Regions from separate parts of the Homo sapiens genome. Here region 1 is linked to region 2. The links come from fine-mapping of genetic effects on gene expression. Tissue or cell type: whole blood. Region 2 holds a variant in brackets; the other region holds the start of a gene. All regions are shown on one strand. Distances are from middle to middle.

Region 1 (5,000 bases), 61 kb before region 2:
ATAAAAATAAATGATTGAATAAGTAAATAAATGTAGGAGAATAAACAAATCTCCCAAACAAAAGAATTCTTCCCCTGAAACTGGTGGAGTATAGATAACTCCCCACCCCTTAAGTGAAGGCTGCACATACTGATTTCCTTCCAAAGAGAAAAGTAAGGCCGGGGGAAAAGAGTTAACTTCACAGTGAAAACACCTGACAAACACAACCTCAGGCATGCAATGAGGCTTACCATCACTACTGATAAACATCAGTGATAAATAAGTTGACAGCACATTCCCTTGACATTACATGATGAGAATGGCCCTTTACCTCTATGACCTTTCCCTCAAAAATCCATAACCCCAGTCTAATTATAAGAAAAACATTCAGGCCGGGGGTGGTGGTTCATGCCTGTAATCCCAGCACTTTGGGAGGCTGAGGCAGGTGGAGGCTGAGGCAGGAGGTCAGGAGATGGAGACCATCCTGGCTAACATGGTGAAACCCCATCTCTACTAAAAATACAAAAAATTAGCCGGGCGTGGTGGCATGCACCTATAGTCCCAGCTACTCGGGACGTTGAGGCAGGAGAATCGCTTGAACCTGGGAGGTGGAGGCTGCAGTGAGCCGAGATCGTGCCACTGCACTCTAGCCTGGACGACAGAGCGTGACCTCGTCTCAAAAAAAAATTCGACAACCCAAATTAAGACACTTTCTACAAAACCTACCAGTACTCTACAAAACTGTCAAGGTCAGCAAAAGCAATGAAAGTCAGGAACTGTCGATCTAGAGGAGCCTAAGGAGACATGTAATGTGGCATCCTGGATGAGATCCTGGGACCGAAAAAGGATATTAGGTAAAAATTAAAGAAACGCAAATTAAGTATGAACTTCAGTTAATAATTATCTATACTGGCTCGTTAGTTATGATATATGCATGATACTAATGTAAGATCTTAATAATAGGTCAAACTAAGCAAAGGGTATGGAGAACTCACTGTACTATCTTTGCAACGTTTATGTAAACCTAAAATTTCTAAAATAAAAAATATTAAAAAAAAGAATTCCTCTGGTTTGAAGTCTTTCAAGTCTGTTGCAACTATATTCCCTGGCCCAAGTTATCTATAACCTTGGTCATCTGGGAGCTTGTTAGCAATACAGAATCTCAGGCACATCCCAGATGTACTGGGCTTCTCAGAGAAACAGCCCCAATTGGGTAGTTTGGGTAATAAAGTTTTGGCTTTCACAATATAGGCTGGCCAACTCGACCCAAAACAGATGATGGTGCACATGCCTGGAGACCCAGGAGGACCTGTGGTGCAGATGAAGTCTGAGGACACTCTGCTGGAGAAGTCTCCCTTGCTTGGGCAAGAGAAGTGGGGGAGTCGGATTTTTTATTCTAGATAGGCCTTCAACTGATTGAAGGAAGCCCACCCAGATTATGGAAGGCAGCCATCTTTACCCAGAGTTCAATGATTTTAGTGTTAACCTCATCCAAAGACAACCAGCAAGTTAACACATAAAATTAACCATCACACCAGATCTGCTGAATCTGAATCTACATTTTAAAAGGATTTGCCAGGTGACTCTGCATAATCCAGTTTGAAAATTGCATTTTTCTACAACCCTTAGAGAGTGTAAAAATCTACATGGTAATTCAGTAACTCAGAAACAAGGCTTGATTTGCTGCTTTAACTTGAGAACTTTTCTAGCATTTACTGATCTGGAGGTAGGGATGCCTACAGAAATCCTCGCCCTCCCTTCTAGGTAAAGGACCCTCCCCTTTGTTCTCACGTGAACCTCACTAAGCTTCTAACCTGGTTTACTGAATTAGTGGCTTGTGGGTCTTCCCTGTCTACACCAAACTCTCCGAGAGCATCTACATCTTATTTTCTACCTCCACAGAGACAGCCTTTATTGGCGGATCCAGATCTGCCCTGCCAAGGCAAGCTGGGTTTTCCTAGTTTCACTTTCAGAGTCCGCAAATGCTAGCACAATCTATCCAAATTCTATCGTGGAGATAAAGCATGCACACATACATCAGAGGATTCCATAGGTCGAACCATATGAAACTACCTATGTTGATTACTTTTACCTATAAAACCAGCAACATCATAGGACTCAACAAATTTCCATTGCTGTTTTTCCGCCTAAAAGCTATTTTAGGACCAGGAGCAGTGGCTCACGCCTGTAATCCCAGCACTTTGGGAGGCCGAGGAGGATTGCTTGAGCCCAGGAGTTCGAAACCAGCTTGGGCAATATAATAAGACCAAGCCTCTACAAAAATAAAAAGTAGAAACAAAATTAGCCAGATGTGGTGGCATGCTCCTGTAGTCCCAGCTACTTGGGGGAGCTGAAGAGAATCGCTTGAGTCCAGGAGTTGGAGGTTGCAGTGAGCTGCGATTGCGCCACTGCATTCCAGCTTGGGCAACAGAGCAAGACCCTGCCTGGGAGAAAAAAAAAAAAAAAAAAAAGCTATTTTAGGGACAATATGCCGCCACAGTCACGAGGTAAATATGCCGCCACAGTCACGAGGTAGATCGTACAAAGGTTGCTAACAGTATGGCAACTGACCGCTAACAAGCGAATGTCAAGTTGTGAAATGCACACCACCCACTTCCCTAGTTCGGTCGAAGCCCTCCCCTTAATTATGTGCAATTCAAGTCCCCACTGCCCGCCCGCAAGCCCCCACTCATCCTCGCTGCGGGCAGGGTGGCCCCTGCACTTTACAAGGGGGTGCAGGAGCGGGAGACGGTCGTCCGAACACCGGCTCCCCGGCATGCGTAGACCGGCGGGCGGAGCGGGCTCACTTTGCGCCAATCCTACGAGAACTCCCAGAACTCCGCTTCCCTAGTCCAACCCAAGCCAGAGTTGCCCACACCTAAGATGGCGGCGGGGGCGGAGTCGGCGCGGCCGCCTCTGGGCGGGACCGCGGGGACTAGACGTGGCCGCGGGGCGGTGTCATCGCCCCCGCCCCGCCCGGTCCAGCCAGCTCGGCCCGGGGGCTTCGGGCTGTCGGGCCGGCGCTCCCTTCTCTGCCAGGTGGCGAGTACACCTGCTCACGTAGGCGTCATGAGGTCTCCGGTTCGAGACCTGGCCCGGAACGATGGCGAGGAGAGCACGGACCGCACGCCTCTTCTACCGGGCGCCCCACGGGCCGAAGCCGGTAAGCGGCGGGGTCGTCCAGGGGCTTCGAGTGGGCAGCGGTACCGGGGGCGGCGGTCTCTGGGCCGGCATGGCCCGGGTACCCGCACCCTGCGCCGGCGGGACCGGAGCTGCTCAGGCGCGAGGGGACATTAAGAGGGGAGCCCGTTCAGAGTGCCGCTCAGTCCCGCCTGCCTCGGTGCGCAGAAGCCCCTCGGGAACCCCGGGGGCCGCGACCGTGATCGCGGAGCCGAGCCGGGGCCTCGGCAGGTGCAGCCCCACCGGGCGGGGGCGGGGGCGGGGGCGGGGGCGGGGGAGCGGCGGTGCAGCCGGCGCTGAGCTGGTGGTTATTTTGGGTAGTGCTGAGCAAGGGACCCAGTGGAAGAACGAACTGGGAGAGAATCATCAAATGAATGGGCTAAGGTCCGAGCGGAGGACCCCGGTGTAAGAGCAAACTGGAGGAGAAACCTGCAGATCAGTAGGCAGAGGGCTGTCCTTCCCTGTCACCGCTAGGTTTCCGCCACTGCGTATCCGCCAGCATGTGACCTGGTAGCTTCTTAGGCGGGGAGGGAAGACAAAAAAGGACTGGAGTTAACATTTGTGAGTATGCAGAGGGCAACTATTGTATAACCCAGCTGATATCTTGACATTGTGCAGTAAGAGACTAAAAACATCGAGGACATTTTTTTTCCGTCTGGCAGTCTATGATTTAAGTTAGGAAAAGGTTCAGTTATCCTCAAGATACCTATGGAGTTCTAAAGTAATTTGCCAAAGGTCTTGGAACAAATCGAAAAGCAGGTACGTCATAAAGCATCTTCCCTGAATTTGAGAAAATTAAAATATTTTGCTATTTGACACTTTTGTAATATAGTTTATTTAAAAGTAACGAAAACTAAAGAACAAATCAGTTTGAATGCATTCTATAGTTTCAAAGATCTGTGCGTGAGAAAGAGTTGTGTTGGAAATTTGACTTTGGCTAACCCAGAATTGTATAGTTTCTATATTTTTATTTGTTTTTAATGTTACCAGATGGTGGCAGTAGAGGTGGCAACCTTATAGCTCCATCTGGCAGCCGGGAGCTTATTTTAGTCAACACAAACTGTAAATACCATACCATAGTTACGTTTTACCTGGAAGTCGGACTTAGTTCCATAAACTGATCATTTTCTGTGGCTTGTAGTGTTCAAATTGTATAATATTCCTCATAAAATAATATAGAAATACAGAAATAAAAGTTATAATAAAGATATTTGCCAGAGATTATTACATTGTTACAATTGAAAAATATGTATATGTATAATCAAAATTTAGCACAAATGTTAAACATTATTCTCAGGAAAATGCAGATTAAAATTACAACGAGGCACTATACACCCACTAGAATAGCTAAAATCCAAAAGGCTGATAATACCAAATGTTAGCAGAGATGTGGATAGAAAAGTTATACATCTCAATAAAGATTGAGATGGACAAATGTATACATTTATCACGTAAATTATACTTCAATAAAGTTGATTTTTAAAAAAGTAGCTTATAGCATCCCTTTTAAAAACAATCCCTACTTGATTCATGTGTTGAGTGTATGGATCTTATGGTACTGGCCCTGTCCTTCCTGGCTTTAGGTGGCTACGTTTGTTACAACCATTTCCTTTTTTATTTTCCCTCTTTACATACCCACTGGAGAGCAAGTGAAGTGGAAATAATAGTAACATACTGTTTTTGCTATTTAGAATATGATAAGTTTTATAGAGAAGGAGCATATATGGCAATTAAGAGAAGTATATAATGAGCCCCCATGTAACCAGCACCCAGATTAAAGTTATCAATTCATGGCCAGTCTTGCCTTATGCTCATACATACTGTGTATTTTGAAGCAAATC
Region 2 (5,528 bases):
CTTAGTGTTAGTTAGTGTTAGGCATGATTCAGGGACATGCCAGTACACTTTTTATTGAAGTATATCTATCTATCTTCAGTAAACTTTTTATTGAAGTATAACTTTTTTTAAATGCACAAATCCAGGCCAGGCGTGGTGGCTCACACCTGTAGTACCATCACTGCGGGAGGCTGAGGCGAGTGGATCACTTGAGCCCAGGAGTTCAAGACCAGCCTGGGAAACATGGCGAAACCCCATCTCTACCAAAAATATATATATATATGTATATGTATATATATACGTATATATATATATATGTATATGTATATATATACGTATATATATACATATATATACACACACAAAGAAAATTAGCCAGGCATGGTAGCATGCACCTCTAATCCCAGCTCCTTGGAAGGCTGAGTTGGGAGGATTGCCTCAGCCCAGAAAGTGGAGGCTGCAGTGAGCCGAGATTGCGCCACTGCACTCCAGCCCGGGTGACAGAGTGAGACTCTGTCTCAAAAATAAAAACAAAAATAAATAAATGCACTAATCTAAAGTGTGCAGCTAGATGAATTTCCACAAAGTTAATACATCTGTGTAACCAGCACCCAATCAAGAAACAGAATATTACCTCCCTCAGTAAGACCCCAGGTACCATTTCCTCCTATTTTTCCTTCACCCTCACCAAGTGGAACCACTCTCCCAACTTTTAACCCCATAGATTAGTATGGTCTGACTTTGGGCTTTATATAAATGGAATAATTTAGTATGTACCTTTTTTGTCTGGCTTCTTTTGCTTCATATTTTGTTTGTGAGCTGTATTTATGATGTTGTAGCCCATTCTCATTGCTGTATTGTATTACGTTGAACAAATATACCACTATCCTACTGCTGGTGGACATTTGGGTTGTTTCAAGGATGAGGCTTTTATGAATAATGTGGCTGTTTTAACACTCTTGTGACACTATCTTTTTAATGAAGTGAACTACACACAAAATTTTATTTCACTTGCATTTTTTGTCTTCCTTTATAGAACACTGTTGGAGAATGGCAAACCGTGTTCTATATTGCTGCTGCTATTAATGTTTTTGGTGCCATTTTCTTTACACTATTCGCCAAAGGTGAAGTACAAAACTGGGCTCTCAATGATCACCATGGACACAGACACTGAAGGAACCAATAAATAATCCTGCCTCTATTAATGTATTTTTATTTATCATGTAACCTCAAAGTGCCTTCTGTATTGTGTAAGCATTCTATGTCTTTTTTTAATTGTACTTGTATTAGATTTTTAAGGCCTATAATCATGAAATATCACTAGTTGCCAGAATAATAAAATGAACTGTGTTTAATTATGAATAATATGTAAGCTAGGACTTCTACTTTAGGTTCACATACCTGCCTGCTAGTCGGGCAACATGAAGTAGGACAGTTCTGTTGATTTTTTAGGGCCATACTAAAGGGAATGAGCTGAAACAGACCTCCTGATACCTTTGCTTAATTAAACTAGATGATAATTCTCAGGTACTGATAAACACCTGTTGTTGTTCACTTTCCTCATAAAAATTGTCAGCTCTCTCTGACACTTAGACCTCAAACTTTAGCATCTCTGTGGAGCTGCCATCCACTGTATAATTTCGCCTGGCAACTGGACTGAGGGGAGTGTGCCCAGGCAGCTGCCAAGCACTCCCTCCCTGGCTTCAGGGTCAGAGTGCCCAGCGTTTATCAGAGGCAGCATCCAAGCCCAGAGCCAGTGTCGACTCTTCGGCTGGTGCCTTTCCTCTGAGGGGCTATCAATGTGTAGATAAAGCCCTGAGTAGGCAAGAGCAGTGAGATCCACTGCTATGGTCTTGATACATCCTCAAACTTTCCCTTCCCAGCACAGAGGAATATTGGCTGGCATGCAACCTGCAAAAGAAAAATGCGAAGCGGCCGGGCACGGTGGCTCATGCCTGTAATCCCAGCACTTTGGGGGGCTGAGGTGGGCGAATCATGAGATCAGGAGTTCGAGACCAGCCTGGCCAGCATGGTGAAACCCCATCTCTACTAAAAATACAAAAAATTAGCTGGGCGTGGTGACGGGCGCCTGTAATCCCAGATACTCAGGAGGCTGAGGTAGGAGAATCACTTGAACCTGGGAGGTGGAAGTTGCAGTGAACCAAGATCACGCCACTGCACTCCAGCCTGGGCGATGGAGCGAGACTCCAACTCAAAAAAAAAAAAAGAATAAAGAAAGAAAAGTGCGATGCCCAGTCAATCACAAATAAGATCATCCTGGTTTAAATCTACTCTCACATGGATCACAGTATAAATTTCTATGTGCTGTGTTTTGTTCGTTTGTATTTTGTAGAGATGGGGTCTCGTTTTGTCGCCCAGGCTGGTTTTGAACTCCTGGCTTCAAGCGATCCTCCTGTCTCGGCCTCACAAAGTGTTGAGACTACAGGCATGAGCCACTGTGCCCAGCCTGTTCTATGTTTTTAAGCTACACGAGAATTTTTTTTTTAATTAATTCTCACTGTTTGTTCAGTCTGTCTTCATCTAAGTTTGTGTTGCAGTTTAAAGTTAAAGTGACTTTTAAAGGCCACATCACCTGAGACTAGGGTAATCATCTTTACTTCTGGTTCCTGAAATCATATTTTTCCAGTGGACCATCCTCCAGTGGCTGTGGTTGTTGAGCATGCTTTCAGAACACCTATGTGGCTTAAAACTTAGTTTATGTTTTGTGTTCAACACTA[C/T]GTGTAATATTTTAAAACTGTTTAATGTGATGTGAATACATTTATGTACATTTATTTTTAAATTTGTAAATAGCTTTAAATTGCTATGGCAATGTTTCTTTTATAAATCATCAAAATAAACCTTTGTGAATTGATTTTTGGATCTGACAGTTCTGTGATGTTTCCTAGTGTCCACAGTGACTCTTTGACATCTTTTCTGCATCCTGCTCGAGCCATCGTCTTCTCTACACACATTTCTGCTACCACAAAGCCGAGGAACTTGGGCCTCCTAAGGGATACAGCATCAGAAATCTCTGTTGCCATCAACCTGCCCTTCCTAGCTCTGAATAGAGTCAGTCCTTCTTGCTATAGCATATGCCCACACTACACTGATTCTCTCTCTCCCACCTCCTCTAAGGACTTGCTTCAGTAATTCTTTTTTTAAATAATTGAGACAGGGTCTTGCTTTGTTGCCCAAGCTGAGCTCAAGCGATCCTCCTGCCTCAGCCTCCCAAGTAGCTGGCACTACACAGCATGTGCTATCACGCCCAGTTAGGAGCTCCTCTTTCATTTACTTCTTCAGTCTCTCCCCTTATTCTTTTCCTTCTATCTCAGAGATACACACGTCTTCTCTAGTCCTTAAATAAAAATACAGAAGTCTCCTGGAGACATTAAATCACAAGTGTACAGAATATCTCTAAGATAATACTCAAGAAACTGGAAAACAGTGTGTGATTTTATAGATAGATATAGATACAGATATAGATTTTCATCCATGGTTCGAGGCTCATAACTCCCGTAGCTCTTGTTATGTTGAGCGCCTTTAGCCCTTAGAAGTAGCCTCAGGAAACAGAATCTTTCTGATCCTCTCCTCTCCTCCTTTCACCTGCTGCTTTTTCTCCCAAGGCAGGAATCTTCCCCCACCTTTCTGTCTTGGAACTGGTCATAAAGAAATTCTGTGGCTGGGGAGGTGGCTCACACCTGTAATCCCAGCACTTTGGGAGGCTGAGGCGGGCGGATCACAAGGTCAGGAGTTCGAGACCAGCCTGGACAATATGGTGAAACCCCGTCCCTACTAAAAATACAAAAATGAGCCAGGCGTGGTGGCGGGCGTCTGTAGTCCCAGCTACTCGGGAGGCTGAGGCAGGAGAATCACTTAAACCCGGGAGGTGAAGGTTACAGTGAGCCGAGATTGCACCACTGCACTCCAGCATGGGTGACAGAGTGAGACTCCGTCTCAAAAAAAAAAAAAAAAATTATGTGGCCTACCTTGTTGGACTGTAGGTCATAAGACCCCATGCCCACGTTTGAGAAGAGGTCCTCTCCATACCCTGGAGGAAGGAATGCTGCACAGAGAGGCCAAGAAGAATCTGGACAGGACTTGGTGGGTTTCCCTCTGAGTCTATTAGTGTTAGATCACACCCTTTCTGTCCAATCACATTTCTACATGGTTGTTAATCATGACTATCCAATGAAGTCTCCATAAAAGGCCTAATAAGACAGGGTTTGGGGAGGCTACTGATAGCTGAACACATGGAGGTTCCTGGAGGGTGGCACGCCCAGAGAGGGCATGGAAGTTCCTCATCCCTTTCCCCAGACATTGCCCTGTGCATCTCTTCATCTGTGTCCTTTGTAATATCCTTTATAGTAAATGATAAACATAAGTGTTTCCCTGAGTTCTTCGAACCACTCTAGCAAATCGATTGAACCAAAAGAGGCAGTTGTGAAAACCTCAACTTGAAGCCAGCAGGTCACAAGTTCCAGAACCCTAGACTTGGGACTGGTGTCTCCAGTGGTGGGCAATCCTGGGGACTGGGCCTTCAACCTGTGGAATCGGATGCTACCTCCAGGTAGACAGTGTCAGTACTGAATTGGGAGACACCCAGTCGGTGTCTGTTGCAGAACTGATTGCTTAGTTGGTGTGTGAGGAAAAACCCACACCCTTTTAATCACAGAAGTCTTCTGTGTTTATTGTTGAATGAGAGATAAGAAAAAAACACATTTGGGCCGGGCGCGGTGGCTCACGCCTGTAATCCCAGCACTTTGGGAGGCCGAGGCGGGTGGATCACGAGGTCAGGAGATCGAAACCATCCTGGCTAACATGGTGAAACCCCACCTCTACTGAAAATACAAAAAAATTAGCCAGGCATGGTGGCAGGTGCCTGTAGTCCCAGCTACTCCGGAGGCTGAGGCAGGAGAATGGCATGAAGCCGGGAGGCGGAGCTTGCAGTGCGCTGAGATCGCGCCACTGCACTCCAGCCTGAGCGACAGAGTGAGACTCCGTCTCAAAAAAGAAAAAGAAAAAGAAAAAAAACACATTTGGCCCGCCGTGGTGGCTCACGCCTGTAATCCCAGCACTTTGGAAGGCTGAGGCAGGCAGATCACCTGAGATCAGAAGTTCGAGACCAGCCTGACCAACATGGAGAAACCCTGTCTCTACTAAAAAATACAAAATTAGCCGGGCATGGTGGCACATGCCTGTAATCCCAGCTACACGGGAGGCTGAGGCAGGAGAATCGCTTGAACCCAGGAGGCAGAGGTTGCGGTGAGCCAAGATCACGCAATTGCACTCCAGCCTGGGCAACAAGAGCGAATCTCAGTCTCAAAAAAAACAAAAAAAAAAAAAACAAAAAAAAAAAAACACAGTTTGAGTAGATTTTTCCACAAACAACGGTTACCTCTATAGAGATAAAATCAGCAACTAGGGATAGGAAGGACAATTAATTTTCACTTTACCAAATGTGGCAGTATGACCTATTCAAATAAATATATTGTTTCATTTATTTATTTATTTTCAGACGGACACTTGCTCTGTTGCCCAGGCTGGAGTGC

The links.
Region 1: it holds the start of SLC17A5, and the variant in region 2 is fine-mapped to the expression of SLC17A5 in whole blood (TOPMed, PIP 0.99).

The regions. Positions count from the first base shown.
Region 1 is chr6:73,651,935-73,656,934 of GRCh38, reverse strand. SLC17A5 (solute carrier family 17 member 5) reads left to right here and starts at 2,943. Exons shown (of 11, transcript NM_012434.5): 1 at 2,943-3,142. The coding sequence starts at 3,049. RefSeq lists an enhancer at 1,739-1,828 and a silencer at 2,828-3,497.
Region 2 is chr6:73,590,702-73,596,229 of GRCh38, reverse strand. It overlaps SLC17A5 (solute carrier family 17 member 5), which reads left to right. Exons shown (of 11, transcript NM_012434.5): 11 at 1,016-2,851. The coding sequence ends at 1,153. Among named protein-coding and RNA genes, the nearest start is that of SLC17A5, 61 kb to the left of the region's middle. The variant C/T (reference allele first, on the strand shown) is at 2,718.